Homo sapiens: one gene and its partners. The protein of the gene in region 1 purifies or fractionates together with the protein of each later gene. This does not show direct contact. Each region holds a gene or a part of one and is shown in the gene's direction. Other genes may lie near its edges. The genes, in order: GTF2H3, ICOSLG, PRDM11 and PRMT2.

The links.
Region 2: the proteins of GTF2H3 (region 1) and ICOSLG purify together in Homo sapiens (affinity purification with mass spectrometry; one large-scale study listed by BioGRID and IntAct). This does not show direct contact.
Region 3: the proteins of GTF2H3 (region 1) and PRDM11 purify together in Homo sapiens (affinity purification with mass spectrometry; one large-scale study listed by BioGRID and IntAct). This does not show direct contact.
Region 4: the proteins of GTF2H3 (region 1) and PRMT2 purify together in Homo sapiens (affinity purification with mass spectrometry, with the first as the bait; one large-scale study listed by BioGRID). This does not show direct contact.

Annotation. Positions count from the first base shown.
Region 1 is NC_000012.12:123,636,383-123,640,860, forward strand, and holds part of GTF2H3 (general transcription factor IIH subunit 3), read left to right. Parts: intron 1-2,881; coding exon 2,882-2,961; intron 2,962-4,478. UniProt on the Homo sapiens protein: Component of the general transcription and DNA repair factor IIH (TFIIH) core complex, which is involved in general and transcription-coupled nucleotide excision repair (NER) of damaged DNA and, when complexed to CAK, in RNA transcription by RNA polymerase II.
Region 2 is NC_000021.9:44,237,513-44,242,498, reverse strand, and holds the start of ICOSLG (ICOS ligand isoform a precursor), read left to right. Parts: upstream 1-1,555; 5' UTR 1,556-1,681; coding exon 1,682-1,695; intron 1,696-3,674; exon of another isoform or gene 3,675-3,901; coding exon of another isoform or gene 3,902-3,959; exon of another isoform or gene 3,960-4,010; coding exon 4,011-4,051; intron 4,052-4,986. UniProt on the Homo sapiens protein: Ligand for the T-cell-specific cell surface receptor ICOS. Acts as a costimulatory signal for T-cell proliferation and cytokine secretion. Also induces B-cell proliferation and differentiation into plasma cells.
Region 3 is NC_000011.10:45,144,644-45,149,921, forward strand, and holds the start of PRDM11 (PR domain-containing protein 11), read left to right. Parts: upstream 1-1,995; 5' UTR 1,996-2,234; intron 2,235-2,699; exon of another isoform or gene 2,700-2,938; intron 2,939-5,278.
Region 4 is NC_000021.9:46,645,653-46,650,130, forward strand, and holds part of PRMT2 (protein arginine N-methyltransferase 2), read left to right. Parts: intron 1-2,805; coding exon 2,806-2,967; intron 2,968-3,922; coding exon 3,923-4,087; intron 4,088-4,478. UniProt on the Homo sapiens protein: Arginine methyltransferase that methylates the guanidino nitrogens of arginyl residues in proteins such as STAT3, FBL, histone H4. Acts as a coactivator (with NCOA2) of the androgen receptor (AR)-mediated transactivation.

The DNA of each region.
Region 1 (4,478 bases):
AAATCAAAGATGGGGTAGAGATTCTCCTAATGTAGAAGACAGGACTGCAGGAAGCAAAGTACGGAGGGAGGAAAGGCATTACTGCTCTTTGCTATTAAATGAGCATCCTAGAGCCGGGCACGGCGGCACATGCCTGTAATCCCAACACTTTAGGAGGCTGAGGTGGGAGGATCACTTGAGCCCAGGAGTTCGAGACCAGCCTAGGCAACAAAGTGAGACCCTGTCTCTACAAAAATTTAAAAATTAGCCAAGTGGCTGGGTGTGGTGGCTCATGCCTGTAATCCCAGCACTTTGGGAGGCCAAGGCGGGCAGATCACCTGAGGTCGGGAGTTCGAGACCAGCCTAACCAACGTGGAGAAACTCTGTCTCTACTGAAAATACAAAATTAGCTGGGCGTGGTGGTGCATGCCTGTAATCCCGGCTACTCAGGAGGCTGAGGCAGGAGAATCGCTTGATCCCGGGAGGCGGAGGTTGCGGTGAGCCGAGATCGCGCCATTACACTCCACCCTGGGCAACAAGAGCAAAACTCCGTCTCAAAAAAAAAAAATAATAATTAGCTGGATGTGGTAGTGCACGCCTGTTGTCCCAGCTGTGTGGGAGACTGAGACAGGAAGATCACTTGAGCCCAGGAGGTCAAGGCTGCAGTGAGCTATATTCGTGGCACTGTACTCCAACCTTGAGACCTTGTCTCAAAAATTTGTTTAAAAATACATAAATAAATAAATGAGCATCCTGGGCCTTTCATAACAGTGTATACTCACAGGTTTGTATGTCTGTCTGTCACCTCAATTAGAGTATAGTCTCTTTGAGGGGTTGGACCCAGTATCCCCAACACCTAACACTGGTAGTGTGAAAGTTTGTTGAAGGATTAATGTGTTTGGGGTGGTGCGTGCATGTAGTCCTTACTACTGGGGAGGCTGATGCAGGAGGATCACAAGCCCAGGATTTCAAGACCAGCCTGGGCAATTTATTGAGACCCCCCCATCTCTTAAAAAAAACCCAAAAAACAAAAATCCAAATGAATGATTAATGTGTTGTGGTAGCCTGTTTAGTTTAGAGAATAGAATTCCTCTTAACAGTAAAATCTTGACGTAGGAATTGCTTTTCCCTCTGTTTTTTAACTTTTTTTTTTTTTTTTGAGACAGAGTCCCACTCTGTCACCCAGGCTGGAGTGCAGTGGCAAGATCTCAGCTCACTGCAACCTCTGCCTGCCAGGTTCAAGTGATTCTCCTGCCTCAGCCTCCCGAGTAGCTGGAATTACAGGTGTGCACCACCATGCCCGGCTAATATTTTGTATTTTTAGTAGGGACGGGGTTTTGCCATATTGGCTAGGCTGGTCTTGAACTCCTGACCTCAGTGATCTGCCCACCTCAGCCTCCCAAAGGGCTGGGATGGGCGCCCAGCCTGGTTTTTTTACCTTTTAAAAAGTGACTCTTAATTACGATTGGCCTTGCTGCTACATGATTTGATGAGTACGGGCCAAATTGACAGCTACGCCTCCCTTTAATTTTTTGCTCCTGAAATTCTACCACTGGGATTCCTACTACTAGTTAACCAGTGCCTTCTGTCCTTGACCAGGCATTCAGAATGCAGTAGGTGGTTTTGTTTGTTTGTTTGTTTGTTTGTTTGTTTCCAGACGGGGTCTCATTCTGTCTCCCAGGCTGGAGTGCATTGGCAGGAACATGGCTCACTGTAGCCTCGACTTCCCGGTCTCAAGCGATCCTCTCTCCTCACCCTCCTGAGTAGCTGGGACTACAGGCATGTGCCACCATGCCCGGCTATTTTTTTTTCCCCGAGATGAAGTCTTGCTCTGTTACCCAGGCTGGAGTGCAGTGGTGCAATCTTGGCTCACTGCAGCCTCCGCCTCCCGGGTTCAAGTGATTCTCCTGCCTCAGTCTCCCGAGTAGCTGGGATTACAGGTGCTTGCCACCAAACCCAGCTAATTTTTTTTTTTTTTTGTATTTTTAGTAGAGATGGGGTGGCTCAACATGTTGGCCGGGCTGGTCTTGAACTTATGACCTCAAGTGATCCCCCCTCCTTGGCCTTCCAAAATGCTGGGATCACAGGCATGAGCCACCGCGCCCGGCCCTAATTTTTATATTTTTAGTAGAGAAAAGGTTTTGCGATATTGCCCAGGCTGGTCTTGGGAACTTCTGAGCTCAAGCCATCTGCCTGTCTTGGCCTCCCAAAGTGCTAGGACTACAGGCCTGTGCCACCACACCTGGCCCTCGTTCAGTAGATATTTATTGAGCAGCTGCAATGTGCTAGGCAGTGTGGTAGGAGTGAGGATAAGCAGTGAACAAAAGAGACAAAAATTCCTACCCTCACAGAGTTTACATTTAGTGCATTGGAGATATAGTGGTTCAGGACGTAGACAAGAACTTGCTAAGGGCCCACTGTGCTTTAAAGCTTTTTTTTTTTTTTTTTTTTTGAGACAGAGTCTTGTTCTGTGGCCCAGGCTGGAGTGCAGTGGCGTGATCTCGGCTCACTGCAAGCTCCGCCTCCTGGGTTCACGCCATTCTCCTGGCTCAGCCTCCCGAGTAGCTGGGACTACAGGCGCCCACCACCACGCCCATCTAATTTTTTGTATTTTTAGTAGAGACGGGGTTTCACCGTGTTAGCCAGGATGGTCTCGATCTCCTGACCTCGTGATCTGCCTGCCTCGGCCTCCCAAAGTGCTGGGGTTACAGGCGTGAGCCACCACGCCCTGCCCAGCTTTAAAGCTTTAACTGGGTCTTCTGTTAATCTCATAATTATAAGGTGATAAACATTTAAGGCATATAGTGGTGCTCTGGATTTAATTTATGAATTGGGAATGTTAGCTTTGATTCATTTTTATGGAGCTAATGTTTTAAATTTTATTTCTTGTTAATATTTTCAGAAGATGAATTGAATCTTCTGGTTATTGTAGTTGATGCCAACCCAATTTGGTGGGGAAAGCAAGCATTAAAGGAATCTCAGGTAAGACTGCTTGAGGAGGCCTTTGGAGAATTCTGGTTTAACTGAGTGTTTATATTGCTTTTTTAAAAAATGGCTTTATTAAAGTATAATTTACATACTGTAATATTCAGCCACTGTACAATTCAGTGATTTTTTTTAAGTAAATTTGCGAAGTTGTGTAACCAGCCCCACATTTCTGCTTTAGAATATTTCTTTGACTGCGTAGCGTTCCCTCATGCCTGCTTGCAGTCAATCCCTGCTTCTATCTCCAAGCTGCAAGCAACCACTGATCTGCCCTCTATCTCTAAATTCCCTTTTCTGGACATTTCATGTATTGATTTCATACAATATGTGGTCTTAAAAAATACTTTCTATTTTGAAATATTTTATTTTTAAATAATATAGACATAGGAAACCAGAAAAGATACAGAGAGGTCCTGTGTACCCATCACTCAAGTTCTTTCAGTGGTGACATTTTACATAATGATAGTACAATTTTGAAACTATCAGTGCAATCTACAGACCTAAGCAGATTGCAGGTTTTACATGTGCTCACTTGTGTGTATGCGTGCGTGCGTGTATGTGTGTGGTTCTGTGCAGTTTTACCACATTCATTGATTTGTGTGTCCATCAGCACCACCATCTCATGCCTCAGCCTCCCGAGTACTTGGGACTACAGGTGCGTACCACCATGCTCAGCTAATTGTTTGTATTTTTAGTAGAGATGGGGTTTTGCCATGTTGGCCAGGCTGGTCTCGAACTCCTGGCCTCATGTGATCTGCCCGCTTTGGCTTCCTAAAGTGTTGGGATTATGGGAGTGAGCCACCGCACCTGGCTGATTCTTCATGTTTGTTCGTTTGTAATCTGGTCCCACTCTCGACCACACCTTCTTTGCCTGTCTGTACTCCCAGGCAACTCTTGATCTCTTTGTGTCACTGTAGATTAGTTTGGATTTTCTAGATTTTTTTCATGTAAATGGAATCAAACAGGTTATAGTGGGGAGGTTTTTGTGGCCTTTTTTTTTTTTTTTTGAGACGGAGTTTTGCTCTTGTTGCCCAGGCTAGAGTGCAATGGCGCGATCTCGGCTCACTGCAACCTTTGCCTCCTGGGTTCAAGTGATTCTCCTTCCTCAGCCTTCCGAGTAGCTGGGATTACAGGCATCCGTCACCACGCCCAGCTAATTTTTTGTATTTTTAGTAGAGTTGGAGTTTCACCATGTTGGCCAGGCTGATCTCGAACTCCTAAACTCAGGTGATCTGCCTACCTCGGCCTCCCAAAGTACTGGGATTACAGGCATGAGCCACTGTGCCTGGCCTTGTCTGTTCTTTTTAATGACAGGTTAGCTGTTTTCCACTTTTAAATGGTTTAAAATAAAATCAGAAGAATAACATTTTTGTGACTTGAAAATTATATGAAATTCAAATTTCTGGGTCTATAAATAAGCCTCACTCATAAATTTATGTATTTTCTGTGGCAGCTTTTGCATTACAAAAGCAGAGGTGGGTAGCAATAAAGATTGCATGGCTCAAAAAGCCTAA
Region 2 (4,986 bases), on another chromosome or scaffold:
GTGTCCCGGGAAGCGCACGTCCACGCTGGCGCTGGACCGGGTTTTCTGACTCCAGGGACGGGACTCGTCCTAAAGAGTCCGGCTCAGATGCGGTTACGCGCCTCACCTCACCCGGGTGCGGACCGCCAGTGCCTCCGCCCTGCACTCCGCGGGCCCTGCCCAGCTCTTCCCGCCGGAGGGCAGGTGGCCCCCGCCCCGCCCCTGCCAGGCGCGCGATTTTAAATCCCCCCAACCCCCGTCTCTCAGCGTGGCCTGGGAGGGGGAAGCCGCCCGGCTTCAGGGCTTCCTGCGCCTTCGCCGCCGCCCTCCCTGCCCTTCCCCGCCGCCGTCCCCCCTATCCCCCCAGCCCGTCTCTTCCGCCTTCTTATTTTGTGCCTGGGCTCTCTGCTCCGCAAAAATGTTGACTTCCCACGGGCAGAGGTTTCAGAATTTTTTTAAAGCTTTTGTCCACGGCGTTCTCTACATCTTGGTTGAAGGAATGGCAGCCTGCGGGGTGCCGTCTGGGGCCCCCGTCTCCCTGCGCTTCTCGCCTCCTCCATGCGCAGGAGGCGGTGGGGATCCGAGCCTCAGCCCAGAGGCGGGGGCTCCGGGAGGAGGGTGCCCCGCTGCCCTGTCTAGCAGCCTCACCCAGGCCCTTCCGGAGGTGCCTCTGCAGAAAGGGAGTCACGTCCCCCCTGGGCCTCACCTGGCTTGCAGGGATCAGGGAGGGAGGGCGGGGTGGGCTGGGTGCGGTGGGGAAGGAGCAGGGACTCTGGGTCCCACCCTCGGTTGCGTGGTGCAGCCTTTCCCAAACCAGCTGCCCCAGACTCCAGGCCAGACGCCACTGCCAAGGCTGACGAGCCCAGAGCCGCAAGCCTGCCTCGGTTTCTCGGCGGGGGATCCTCAGAGCCAGTGTTAAGCAAAGAGGCTGCGCCAGCGCCCTTCACACCCCTAGAAGGCTAGGGGAGCAAGGCTAGGTGGGGGCGGGCTGGGGCTGGCCCAGAGGGTAGAGCCCGCCCACTTTCCCTCCCTCCTTCCATTCATGCATGCGTTCATTCAGTCATTCATTCCTCAGCAGTCGCTGAGCTCACTCGCCTTAAGTCCTGGAGATCATCGGAGCGCAGCCGGCCAGGGGCCTGGCGCTCTCCCAGCCTTGGGGCCTGGGTCCCCGGACTCCTGCTCGGGGAGGGCCGCAGGACCGGCGCATTGTGCGCGGCGCGGGGAACGGCCCTTGCCTCCCACGGTGCCCTCCCTCGCTGCGCCGGCACCCGCAGCACCCCTGGCCACCTTCCTGCCGGGTACCCCCCACCCCTGCGCTTCCCAGGGCACCTACGGCGCCCAGGTCCGCGTCCAGGCGGACAGGCCGACCTGCCTCTGTCCCGCCTCCGGCCGACGGGCACACGCCTGGGCAGAGCCGAACTTTCCGGAGCCGCCGCGCAGCGCCCCGCCTCCTGTCCCGGGGCGGTCTCGGTCGCCAGAGGAGCCAGGCCGGGGGCGGGGCGGGGACGGGGCGGGGACACGGCTGCCTCCAGCACACCGCGCGCTGGGCGCTCAGAGCCTCGGGCGCGGCGGGAGCGCAGTTAGAGCCGATCTCCCGCGCCCCGAGGTTGCTCCTCTCCGAGGTCTCCCGCGGCCCAAGTTCTCCGCGCCCCGAGGTCTCCGCGCCCCGAGGTCTCCGCGGCCCGAGGTCTCCGCCCGCACCATGCGGCTGGGCAGGTGAGCCGGGGAAGGAGCGGAGGCGCCGCGGTCAGGGGCGGGGTGGCTCGGCCCGCGCGTCCCCAGCTCGGCTCGGACGCGGGGCCTGCGGGGCTCGCCTGGAGGTGCCGGGCTGGCAGTGCGGGTCCGAGGAGCGGGCGGCGGAGGCGCCGGGGCGGCCGGCGGGGCGTGGACGGCAGTGGGCGGCGGGGCCTGGCACCGGGACCCATGGCAGGACGCACAGCCGTGCGGGGGCGGGCTCGGGGGCGGGGTCCCTGCCAGGGAAGGAGGACCGCGAACGCTGGAAGGAGGGAGGGAAGGCGGGCGCACCCTGCACGCCGGGGCACGGGCGCTGCCCCTTCCACTCCCTGGCACTGCTGATTTCCTAGAAGAAGGGAGAAGGAGGGAGGTGACCGGCCGAGCGCTCTCCAAGGCCAGCTGGTGCCCACGGTCTGCGGACACGCCCTCCCCCACACACGTGGGATTCCCCGCAGCCCGGCAGCCGATCCACACTGGGGAAGGCGGGGCTGCCTGAACCAGGAGTGACAGCTTCCTCCTGGATTTTTGCGAAAATATCCAAAATATACTCTTCGCAACCCACGTTGTAGGGTCCGCAGCCTGTGCTCCCCTGGGTGAACCTGTGAGGCCCCTGACCCCAGGGATGCCTCCCGCACAGCTCAGAGCTGGGCCACACCGGAGTCACACTCCCCAGGTCCCCTCCCCATTAGAAGTGTATGCAGTTATGATCCTGCCCTAGAGAGAAAGAATTTAAAGGTCCCGGAATGTCATAGCCCTCCCAAATGTCTTAGCCCTCCGCCACCCACACCTTCAGGTAGGCGGCCCTGTCCATGCTGGGTCTTGAGGCAAGCTCGGGGTGGGGGTAGGTTAGATGCAGGGGTGCTGAGGGTCCAAGGAAAGGACACAGAGGCCGCTGCTTAGGCAGCACCCAGGGAGGGGACAAGCCAGAAACAGCCTGGAGCAGGCACCCCCCACCCTGGCCCAGGAAGCCCCCAGATGTCCTGAGGAGGCCTCCATAGACAGGAGGGGCCTTGTGGGCTGGTGATGAATATGGGCACTGTGGGAGACAAATGGGGGCACAGAGGAGTTCTCACAGCTGTCGTTTAGATGGTGGCTCTGGGGAAATGCTTGAAGGGGCTAAGGGTGGAGGCAGGGGGCCTGCTGGAGGCCATCACAGCCATCTTGCCAGCCAGAATGGTGGCCCCAACAGGGGGAGTGGGAGAGAGAGGAAGGGCCGCCTGCAGACTTCAAGAGCCCCTGGTGGCCAGGGGCCGCCTTGGTGCATGTGTGCTCACTTGGCACAGACACACCTCCATGCAGACTCAGATGACAGCCATCGTGGGTGGGGCAGGGGTTTCTGTGGCTCCAGGGCTCAGGGACAGCCCACTGGGAGGTTCCCACAAGACCAACCTTTGACTTACAAAGCCCCCAAGCTTTCCCAGGCAGAGGCCACAGAGAAGAGGGATGAGCGTCTCCCAGACCTTGGAGGTGCAGGGACATCAGAGAAGGAGATGTCCCTGCTCCTGGGGCTCTTGCTTCATGGGGAGCTGGCCCCAGAAACTGATGGTTTGGGGGGCTGGGGTAAGCACTGCTACCAAAGTGGTCCCGGCCACTAAGGGCCCCCACGTGGGGAAGGCATCCTGGGGGCTGGCGGGAGGAGGTGGCGAGCCTGTGGCGTGCAGGGTGCAAAGGCTCCCAGACCCAAGATGGCAGGGGCATTGGAGTCACGAGGGGAATTTGCTGCCCGAGGCAGGGGCACCAGCTGCAGCAGGATCTGAAACAGGAGGAGCTCAGGTTTGGTTTCAAAATGATCCGCGTTCCGCACAGGGCTGTCCCGTCACTCACCTGACCCTGTCACGGGCACGCCTGATGTTCTCCGTCTCCCCAGCATTTTAAGTGACACTCCTACTATATGTGCCCTGAAAGCTTTTTTTTTTTTTTTTTTTTCTGATTTCCTACAACTTCTTGGCATCTGTCCCCAGGAAGGCTAGACCAGCCTCACTGGCGTCCCTCGCTCCCCTTCATCCTCACGCCAGCATCACTGTGTTTCTGGGGATTTGTTACCGCGAGAGCTAGAGAGTGGTGAGAGGCTGCCAGCCCCTCGGACTTGCTGTGCTGGGCAGGAGGGTGGTGGTCCTGGCCCCGGACCCCGAATTCCCATGGAGAACAGAGGCAGGCAGGCTCCTGGCTCTGCCTTCACATTTCTGTGATGGGCTTAACTACCTCCTGCTCATGGGAACCAGCCTGTTCCTGTTTGGAAGATACAGGTAACTCCCTGGTGGCCCCGCCTCACCTGCCTTTCTGGTTGTTTTTTCCAGTCCTGGACTGCTCTTCCTGCTCTTCAGCAGCCTTCGAGCTGGTAAGTTCAGGGGGTGCTTTGCCATGGGGCGCCCAGCTCAGAGATGGGCTCTCCGGCTGTGTGGACTGCTGGCCGCAGGGCACTGGGAGCAGCCTCACCAGGCTCCTTCTTGCTTCTCAAGTGGTCCTTTGGAGACAGTTGGACCCTAAACCTAGGTTGCTGCACAGGATAGAAGCGTTTCCTTAAAGGGAAACACTTCTGCAAACTCCGGAGTTCTTGTTTGACTCCGTCTTTGTTGCGGGCAGAATGCAGTTCCTCTGAGCCAGGGCTTCCTGGGTCCCCTGGTCTCCCTGTCCCAGGCAGCAGCCCTGCTGAGCCCTAAGAGCCACCAGCCTCTGGAAGAGCCAGGAATAAGGACGAAGCACCGCAGCACAAACCTGAAACCTTGCCAAGCCTTCCAGCCCAGAGGGCTTTGGGGGCAGGGGACACACACAGATTTTCCTGCAGGTGCCAGGTGCAGTGGCTCACTCCTGTAATCCCAGGACTTTGGGAGGCCAAGGCGGGTGGATCACCTGAGGTCAGGAGTTCGAGACCAGGCTGGCCAACATAGTGAAGCCCGATCTCTACTAAAAATACAAAAAATTAGCTGGGCATGGTGGCGGGCACCTGTAATCCCAGCTACTTGGGAGGGTGAGGCAGGAGAATGGCGTGAACCCCAGAGTCGGGGGTTGCAGTGAGCTGAGATCACGCCATTGCACCCCAGCCTGGGTGACGGAGCAAGACTCCATCTCAAAAAAAAAGATTTTCCCACAGGCATTTACGTAGCTGCACAAACAGTAAAGCTACCCTGTGTCTGCCACATTTGTGACAGCTTTCCTACTGCAAGTGAGCAGCAATATAATGTAATTGCTGAGAAATTCTTTTCCCTTAAATGCCTTTCCCTTAAAGAACTTTTTATTGTGCATTAATTATAGACTCCCGAGAAGTAGTAAAAG
Region 3 (5,278 bases), on another chromosome or scaffold:
ACTGCAGGACACATGTCCAACACCCTGGGTACGTTGACGCCTCGAGGTCTTTGCTTCTGCTCTTTGCCTTCCTGGCAATGCCATCCTACCATTGGTGGAAATTCCAGGCCTACCTCTGACATTACTTCCTTGGTGAATCTTTCTCCTCAAAAGGAACAACAAATGGCTCCTTCCTCAGTGCTCTTTTCTCGGCCGGGCACTTGGCATCCAAAACCATGCTCAGTGCAACTGGAGGTGCATTCAGTTCTGAATTAATTGAAGTTATCTGCGAGTGCCTTCATCTCTTGGGCAGACCAAGACCTGCCTGAAGGATCTTGTCATTCTAATCGTGGAACCCCTCCCCCAACCCCCGTCCCCCAGTACCCGACACTCTGCCTGGCACCAAGCAGAGAAATACTCAGGAAACTTACAGTTGCATTGAACCTCATATAACGATAGGGTTGTTACTGTCTCTTGAGCATCTACTGAGAGCAGCTGGGTGCTGGGCCCTTTAAATACACTCTCATGGCTCCTTACACAGAGCCAGGAACGTGGGTATTACTGTGCACCACTTTGCAGATGTGGGAAATAAAGGCTCAGAGAGGTGAAGCCAGTTGCTCCAGATCACACAGCCAGTAACAGGCATGAGATTCCAAGAAGCTGTGTTTGTGACGCCAGAGTCAAGGGAAACAAATGATGTGGTACCCACAGTGCTCCCTCCCTCATCACCCCCACCGCCTCCAGCTCCACATCCAGATTCCAAAAGCCATGAGCACCCCCATCTGACCATGAACGCCCATCTGACCATGAACGCCCATCTGCGGATCGCCAGCAGCAAGGTTGACACGGAACTCCTTCCGCCTTGGGAGGAGGCTTCCCTGGGGTAGTACCCTCTGGGGGCCGTCTGGGCAACTCTTGCAGGGCTTCGTGGATGTTTGGGGAAAGCACTGGACAGCGCCTCGCCCAGGTGCCTTCCTGGGAATCACCAACTGGGGTTTACTGCCCCAATTTTGGAGCTTGCACAGAGCATCCTCCCTTGGTAGGAGAGACGTCGCCATTGGGCCACAGGACTTGTAGAGGACGCCACGAGAAAGGGGTTGATTGGGGAATGGTTGTCCTGGTTACGCCACCCTGCAGTGTCCCTTGCCCTCCTCCAAGGCTTCCAGCCCCATCGCAACCTGTCAGTTTTCCAGGCGCTCAGGAAAGCATGTCAAGCACTCAAGCACTCTGTGACAATTCCACCCCCGGCCCAGTCTTTCCCTCTTCACCCCCTCTCTGTGATGTCGAATCCCATTTCACAGATGGAGAAACTGAGGAATCGAGCAAGTGAATGCCGCTTAAACATCTTTTCCAAGCCAGCCAGGGACCAGCCCCTCCAGTTCTCAGAATCTCTCTCCCTCTGTAACATATTTTGACTTGAAGAACATGTGCGATTCGTGACTACAAAACCGCAACCCCACATAAAGAGTTAATATTTTTAACGAACCCCAAGCCCCTCACCCTCAGCCTTCGCGGGACGCCTGCGTCTCGCAACTTCAGTTTGTATCTCCAAACTGCTGAGCATTCAAAGGGTTAAATGGGACCGGGAGGGGGCCAGCCGCGGAGCCCTGAAAGGGTTAAAAATCCAAACGCGTCGACTCCCCCCGACTATTTGGTTCCAAATGGACAGCCACGCGACCGGGAGAGCCAGGGAGCCCCCCTCACAATGACTTTATTAAAATTTGAGAACTTTTACTTCTGACCCCAAAAAAGTATCCCAGTTCGAAAGTTCTCTCTTAACCTTTTCTTTTTTTCATCTATTTTTTTCTCGATTTCTCCACGGGCTGGATTATAAAACGCTCCCTCTCCCTTTGGGTTTGGAGAGCCGGGTTCCCCCCTCCGGGCAGGGCGCGGGCCTAAGGGGCCCCGGGAGTTTTCTCCGGGGCCGGGTCGGGACGCGGCTGGTGAGTCCCGGCTCCGGCCCCTGAATTGGGGGGTCCGCGTCTGCCCCAAACGCCGCTTTCTTCCGTTTTCCATGTCATTTCCTGTACTAATAAGATGGTGGTCAAAGCAGGGGAGGAGAGCAGCAGCGAGTCGCCGCCGCCGCCGCGCCGAGGCTGGCGCTGAAACTTTGCCTCGCCGGGGACCAGCGCGCCCGCAGCGCGGCCGCTCCCTCCGCGGGGGCCGCCAGCCGAGGCCGCGCCGCCTCCGCCGAGCCGCCCGCCGGGCCGCTCTCGCCGCCCGGGCCCCGCGGCTGCCGCAGCATTCCCGGGAAGGTGAGTCAGCCCCGGTAGCCAATGTGGCCATTGAAAATGGCTTCGGAGAGCGCTCGGCAGTTTGCCAGCGAGCGCGGGGGCCGCCGGTGCGGGGGCCGGGAGCGGCGGCTGGGGGCGGGGGCGGCCGGGGGTCTCGGCGCGGGCGCGGGGCGGGGGTCCGGACGGCGCCGGCGCGGGGTGGGGGGCGGCCCGCCGTGGCCGCGAGGTGGGTGAACCCTCGGCAGGTAGCTGCCGCCGCCGCGGGAGCCGGGGGCCGCCCTCCGCCTCCTTCCTCCCAGCTCGCTCGCTCCTCGCCTTGTTACAATGTAGCCTTTTCTCTCCGCAAGCGGCGCGCCCGCTGACGGACGTGGCCGCCGACCAATGGGAGTGGCGGCCCGGGCCGAGCGCTCGGAATGAGAACGCGGTGACACGGACGGGGCGGGGCGCGGACGCCGACGCCAGAGGGCTCGCCGCGGCCGCCGGCCTAGTTCTCGCGGACGCCCTCGGCCCCGCGCCGGGGGCTGCTGCGGGGTGCTCGGGGATGAAGGTGGGAGGCGTCCTTTGGGATGCGACGAAGCCTTCTCCATCGCGGTTCGCGATTGCCCGCGAAGCGTGGCCGAGCCGGAGGGCATTTCTGGAATGCGTTTTAAGTGTCAGTTGCGGTGTAGACTCTTCGGGAAACCTCTCCGGAGCGTAGCCTCCACCCCCCACTCGCAGTCCCCAAGGTACTCTCCTATGCAGAAACTGCAGAAACTTAGCGGCCAATGACCTCTCTCCGGTCAAGGCCAGCGTGCTCTAGGCGAGTCGCTGCAAAGAGAATACCAATGTCTTGGGCGATGCTGGTGAAAAATTGCTGGTGTGTGTCTAGAGCCCAGTTGGGAGATGGGGGCTTAGAACCCCCCAGGCTGGGCTGGGATTTAGGGGAGAAAAATGTGAAACGTCTCCTCTTTCCTAGACGTTTGCTTCGTGTGGAGAAAGGCTGTGCTGTATAATTTAGAGTGGCTGTAAGGAAACACACCCAGCCCTTTGTGCGTGGGGCCAGGAGGCAATGATGAGAGATTGCTCTTGGTACCTGGAAACCCTATAAACTTTGGGGGTTTGGGGACAGAAGAATTTTCTGTGGAGCATGATGCCTGTAGCAACCAAGCTGGTCCTTGCCCACATTTCCTCTTGGGAGGGAGGAAGGTTCGGGCTTTCCTAGGGTCATTGTTGGAGGTGTAGGGTCGTAGTTGGGGAGCAGGGCACAGTCTTTGCCCGCCGACTCTCTGAAAGGTGGACAAGCAGAGTTCTATAGGGCACGTGTAGAAACCTTCCCTTCTGGGAATAGAGCCCAGACCTCTTGCTGTATTCAGTTTAATGGAAAGGCTTTCTCTCTTTGAATTCTACCTCCTCCTCATAGTCACTGTCTGACTTTGGACTTCACATCGTTGTCTTTGGCCTCTCTGAGCCTTGTGTCTCCATCCCTGAGTCCAACAAAACCTGCCCGGCAAGGAAGTTGTGAAATTAAATGAGATAGCAAAGATGAAATGCCTGTTCCAGGGCCTGGCATACTGTTTAAGAAGTGTTCTCCCCCAGAATCACGGCAGAAGGTACTGACCTGGGAATATCAGAATTGCCCCCACAGACCCCACCGTGGTCCATCCAGTCTCAAACTGACAGGGCCCCAAGGAACAGCTGGTGGCAGGGTCTCGTTTCCTTCCCTGGTGACGTTCACAAAGATGAGGGACTCCCCTCAGTTGTCCTAGGAGTCCTAGATTGGTCATGATAGCCATCACCTCTGCACTTATGGACTCATTTGACCTGAGTTACAGTTCTGTCGTCTAGACTTCTTGGGTTGATGTGTTCCATCAATTTCTTCTCCTTGGTGTCAAGTAGGATTTCTCCTATTTGGATCTGCCCTCTCCTGGACTTACAGGGAGTTTCCCTGGTTCCAGGTTGTTGGCAAGTATAAAGTAAAGAACACTGGGGTAGGAGTCGGGAGTCCTGCCTGTGGATTCAGCTGCCTTCTTGGCCTGCTCTCTTGGCTGTCTCATAGGCATGACAAACCCACAGTGGCCAAAGGTGTCCATAATCTTCCTCTCTAAACCTCTTCTAGGGCTCTGATCTTGGCCAAGAGCACACTGTCCCACTACTCTTTAAGGCAGAAGCCTTGGTGTCTCTGTCTCTGTCACCCCAATCTACTCCATCTCCAGACCCAGATAACTTTATCCTCTCAAATGAACCCATCCACTTCTCTCCATCCCCTCTTCCCCAGTGTTGTAGTCAAGCCATCGCTGTCTCTCCCCAGGACAACAGCAAGAGCCTCCTAATGTCTACCTGCAGTCACCCCCTCATGGCAGTCAGAGTGATCCATTCCAAATAGGATCATATCAGGCATCCCATTTCCTGCTTTAAACACCTAGAAGTCTTTCCAGTGTGTTGGGGATAAAGAACCAAATTGGTGTAGTGACCTAAAAGCTACCGAATGATCTGGCCCCTGCCCTTGACCTCATCTTCTATCCTCTCCTAGATCTCTCTGAACTCCATACCCCGATCTCTCCTACATAGGCTGGCCTTTCCTCCTCAAATCCTTGAGCTGTTGTCATCTAATGAATAAATTAAGGTTAGCAAAGGGCACAGTGGGATGGGAGTGTCTGGTGGTCCTTAGTGCTTTCCTCTTACTATTTCCGGTTCTTCCATTTCCACAGTAGGTTGACTGGAGCTCTACCTGCGCTTGGGTGGGGGCCCCATGACTGGCTGGTGAATTATAAATGACAGTGATTCACGTCACTTCTGGGCCACAGCATTTAATTGCTGGTGTGAGACCCTCCACAGTGCACTTTCCCTGTGGCATGGCAACTGGTAGTAAGGCGGGATGGTGGTGGCTGCTGCCAGCCTGAGTCCCTGTGTCACTCCGTGCGTGAAGCCCTTGGTGACCCATGATGGACATGCAACATGAGTGAAAACTAAACCTTTGCTGTTTTAAACTGCTGAGCTGTTGGGGCTGTTTGTTACTGCAGCATAACTTAGCCTGTGCTGACCGATGCAGGGACTAGAGAGGCATTTTAGGCAGAGAGACAAGTAGT
Region 4 (4,478 bases), on another chromosome or scaffold:
AATCTATAACGTTTGACTCAATTATATAAAGTTAAGAGGCCATATTAGAAGGTTTTTTGTTTGTTTTTGTTTTTTTTTTTTTGAGACGTAGTCTTGCTCTGTCACCCAGACTGGAGTGTGGTGGCAGGATCCTAGTTCACTGCAGCCTCTGCCTCCCGGGTTCAAGCAATTCTCCTGCCACAGCCTCCTGTGTACCTGGGACTACAGGTGCGTGCCACCATGCCTGGCTAATTTTTGTATTTTTAATGAGGGGGTTTTGCCATGTTGGCCAGACTGGTCTTGAACTCCTGGCCTCAAGTGATCCTCCTGTCTCAGCCTCCCAAAGGGCTGGGATTACAGGCATGAACCATTGCGCCCGGCCGGAAGGTACTGTTTGTGAGTGTGCATGGGTGCTGAGACTGACTGAGGGCAGGAGTGGCTCCCCTGTTGGTTGAATGGAGGTTACCTGCTGGTAGGGGAGGCTCTGGGACCAGCGTGGCTGAGTCAGGAGTTCTGACATGCTGGCAGTGTTCTGGGGTTGGATATAGGTATAGAGGTGTTTGCTATATAACAATACTTGACTAACTCTGCAGATACTTTTTATTGCACTTTTTCGCAGGTATGCCATATTTCACAATTAAAAGTGTTAAAAACTATTCATGTCTGTACATGGTTAGTGATTTCTATCCGTTAAGGAAAGATACATAATGAAAAGCCAATTCCAGCCTCCCACCTCTGCCGCCTCTCAGCTCAAAGAACCACTGCCCACCAGATTCCTCTGTGCTTATGAAGTCCAAGTGACACCTAATGTATTTTACGTTTTTAATGTATAGAAAAGGCATTGTTCCACCACTCAGGTCTTCACCTTGCTCTTTTCACGTAGCTGTAGTATTTTGAAGATCTCTCATATTGGCACCTGTCACTCTTTATAACAGCTGCAGAGCGTTGTGTTACTTTAAAAGGGTCCTGTTGATATTTGGACAGTGGTTATTTAATAGCTTTTTATCATGATAAATAATGCTGTAATGGAGTCCTGTATAATCCTGTTAAATGCTGTTTAGAATTTCTATAGGGTAAATTCCTACGGGGTGTGTGTGTGTAGTGTGTACATGTGGTTTCCTTAAGTGGATCTTGCCAGTTCGCCCTCCAGAAAGATTTGCTAATTATACACTTGGTCTGTTTGTGCTGCTGTAACAAAATACCTTAGACTGAGTGAATTATGAAGAACAAAGCTTTGTTTCTCGCAGTTCTGGAGGCTGGGAAGGCATTGGCATTGGTGTCCAAGATGGCGCCTCATGGCTGTCCTCACGTGGTGAAGGCGGGAGGGCTGGGAGCACCTCTTTCACCACAAACCCTTTCATAGTAACCTCCAAAGGTGGCCTCTTAATGCCATCACACTGACGATTAAGTTTCAGTACATGGATTTTTGGAGACATTTCAGACCGTGGCATGATGGTGTGTGAAAGCTCATTTCCCTACCACAAATCAAAGTGAAAAAGGACTTTGATCTTAAAAGTTAAATATGGCATCTTTTAGTTTTGATTTCCATTTTTTAAGTAAGATTGATTATCTTTTATGTGTTTATGGGCCTTTTGTATTTTTTCTTTTTTTGTAAACTTTCATATTATTTGCCCCTTTTGATTTTTGTTGATTCGTGTGTTAAGTAATTTAGCCTGAATTTGTGAAGTTTTGTGACTTTGTGAAATTTTTTCCCACGTACAACTTTTTTCTTTGTATAGCCTAATATGGTTTTCTTTTCTTTGTGACTTCTTTTTCTTTTCTTTGTGAAAAACCTTCCTCACTATAAGATTATAAATACCCACACTTTTGTTTTCAGAACTGTTATGATTCTGTGTTATTTTATTTTTGTTTTTTATGTTTTTTAGAGATGGTGTCACACTCTGTCGTATGAGTGGCTGGAGTGCGGTGGTGCAGTCATAGTGCACTGTATCCTCAAACTCCTGGGTTTAAGGGACCTTCACCTTAGCTTCCCAAAGTACTGGGATTACAGGGGTGAGGCACCCTGCCTGGCCTTCTGATTCTATTTTAAACAATGAGATTTTAAATAATAAAAAATCTAGAAATTATTTGTTGTAAAAAATATAATGTAAAATTCCGCCCTAATGTATGCCCACAAATCTCCAGCGACCCCAGCCTCAGTTACTGGACAGTTCCCTTCGCGTTGATGTGAAACGGTGCGTTTGTCCTGCTCTGGATTTCAGGGGTCTGCTGTAGAATTCCTGTTGTTTCACTGGTCTGTTTACTGCAGTTCCCAGTGCTTCGTCATTTCCATCACTGCACCTTTGTAGGATCTGCAAGAGCTAGGTCTCCAGCAGTTCTTTTTTTTTTAAAGCATTTTCCTCATTAGCCTTGGGCACTTACTGTTTTGAAACTAATTTTATTATCATTTTGTTGTGCTTTCTCCTTTAGTAGGTACTGCATGGAATGTTTATGTTAATTTTGGGAGAGCTGACATCTTTATAACATTGACTCTCAGTCTCTGATTACTTAAGCTTTGTTTAATATCTCTTAGTATTTTAAGATAAGGACAATATCTCTTTGTCATACATGGTTGTGCACCTTTCTTGTTAAATTTGTTCCTAGGTATTTTTTGTGTATTATTACTGTTATAAGGGGGTGGGTGAAGTGTTCTCTAAATACCAATGAGATTAACTTGGTTGACAGTGATGTCCAGGCCTTCCATAGTCTTCCATAGGGGTGTTGGGGTCAGGGGTCATCAGCTGTGGCTCTGACCCTCCATCTCAGTCCAGACCTCAGCATGGCTCTAGGTCACAGGCAGTGATTCTGAATGTGCATTTCTTCCAGAAACTCCACTTGGAGATGTTGGCAGACCAGCCACGAACAACTAAATACCACAGTGTCATCCTGCAGAATAAAGAATCCCTGACGGATAAAGTCATCCTGGACGTGGGCTGTGGGACTGGGATCATCAGTCTCTTCTGTGCACACTATGCGCGGCCTAGAGCGGTGAGTGGGGTCTCGAGCGCATCCCGGGTGTTTGTGCCGAGGCTGGTGACGTCCGAGGTGGCCTCTGAGTGTGCTGACTTGTGACCCTGAGCTGTTGGGGGCTCACCGGTGACTCCATGGTCTTGTTGAGCACCCTGCACGTGGGGCTCAGGGTCGGTAAAATAGCAGTGCGTGGAGACCGCGTGCTAGAGGCCGTGGCGCCCGCGTACAATGAGTCGCAGACAGCACAGACGGGAGTAGGGCAGAATAGACAATATCCCGTGAATTGCGTGGGGCGGGGTATGTTCTGTGAGACGTTTATTTCAGTTGAGTAGAGAAACACGTGCACCCACATGTCTGTGCTGGGCCTTGGGTGTGGTTGGTCTCATGGGGTTGGGAGGGATGCACACGCTGGGCCCCCTCCCCACCCCTCTTAGGCCGTCTATACTGTGCTGAGCTGAGCCGAGCTGCAGCCTTGGAGACTCCTTACACAGTGGGTGGGGTCGCAGCACAGTGTCCACCCAAGTCCAGGCTCTGCAGGACCCAGGACCCAGCGCTTGGGTGCTTCCCACCAGACCCTTCCCTGAGAACCTGGGTTTGAAATTGTCTGACAGGCCTCAGATGTGGCACAGACCAGCATTGTCACTTGGGTGCTAAGAAGTTGCTGTGCTGGTCATGGATTAAGATTGCTGTGCGTGTGGCAGCCGGCTCGGGCATGCGAGTCTTCCATCCACTTGCAGCCCTGCGTCTGTGTCTTGTCCGGGAGGTGGGGGCAGTTGGGAGGGTTAGAGGCGGCTCCTTTCTGGGTGCCCCTGGAGGGGCAGGTGTGGCCAGTCCTCGCTGCCTCTGCTGTCTGGAATGCTGCTTCCCTCTTGTGTCATTGACCATTTCTCGTGATGCTGGTTGTGACTCAGGAGAGTAGATGACGGGCCGTGTGCCGGCCGGATGTACGCTGACGGTGCCTCTGCTGCTGCAGGTGTACGCGGTGGAGGCCAGTGAGATGGCACAGCACACGGGGCAGCTGGTCCTGCAGAACGGCTTTGCTGACATCATCACCGTGTACCAGCAGAAGGTGGAGGATGTGGTGCTGCCCGAGAAGGTGGACGTGCTGGTGTCTGAGTGGATGGGGACCTGCCTGCTGGTGAGGGCGGGCGTGCGGGCAGCTGGGGGCCGGAGCTGGGGGGCTTCTGAGCACGGGCTCGGCTGGGCCAACCTCAGGATCTCAAGGGTCGTGCGTGATTCATTTTGATGTTTTCCCTAATGTGAGGTCTAATTAATTTCTTGTGTGGACATTGGCTCAGTGTCTTGAATTTTCACCTGATTTAAAAAATGCCTTTATGAGAAATTTAAGTCAAAGTTCATGTAACATTTTCATGAGTGATTTACATGAACTGTGTTCTCCTCGGGGATCTGTAAAAATCCTGTGCCTAACAGGTAAGGCTGTTTCTTTAATGCCAGTAGGGCCTTCGTCCCTGGCCAGGGTCTCCTCGCCTTAGACTGGCCCCAGTGATGCTGTGAAGCCACTTGGGCAT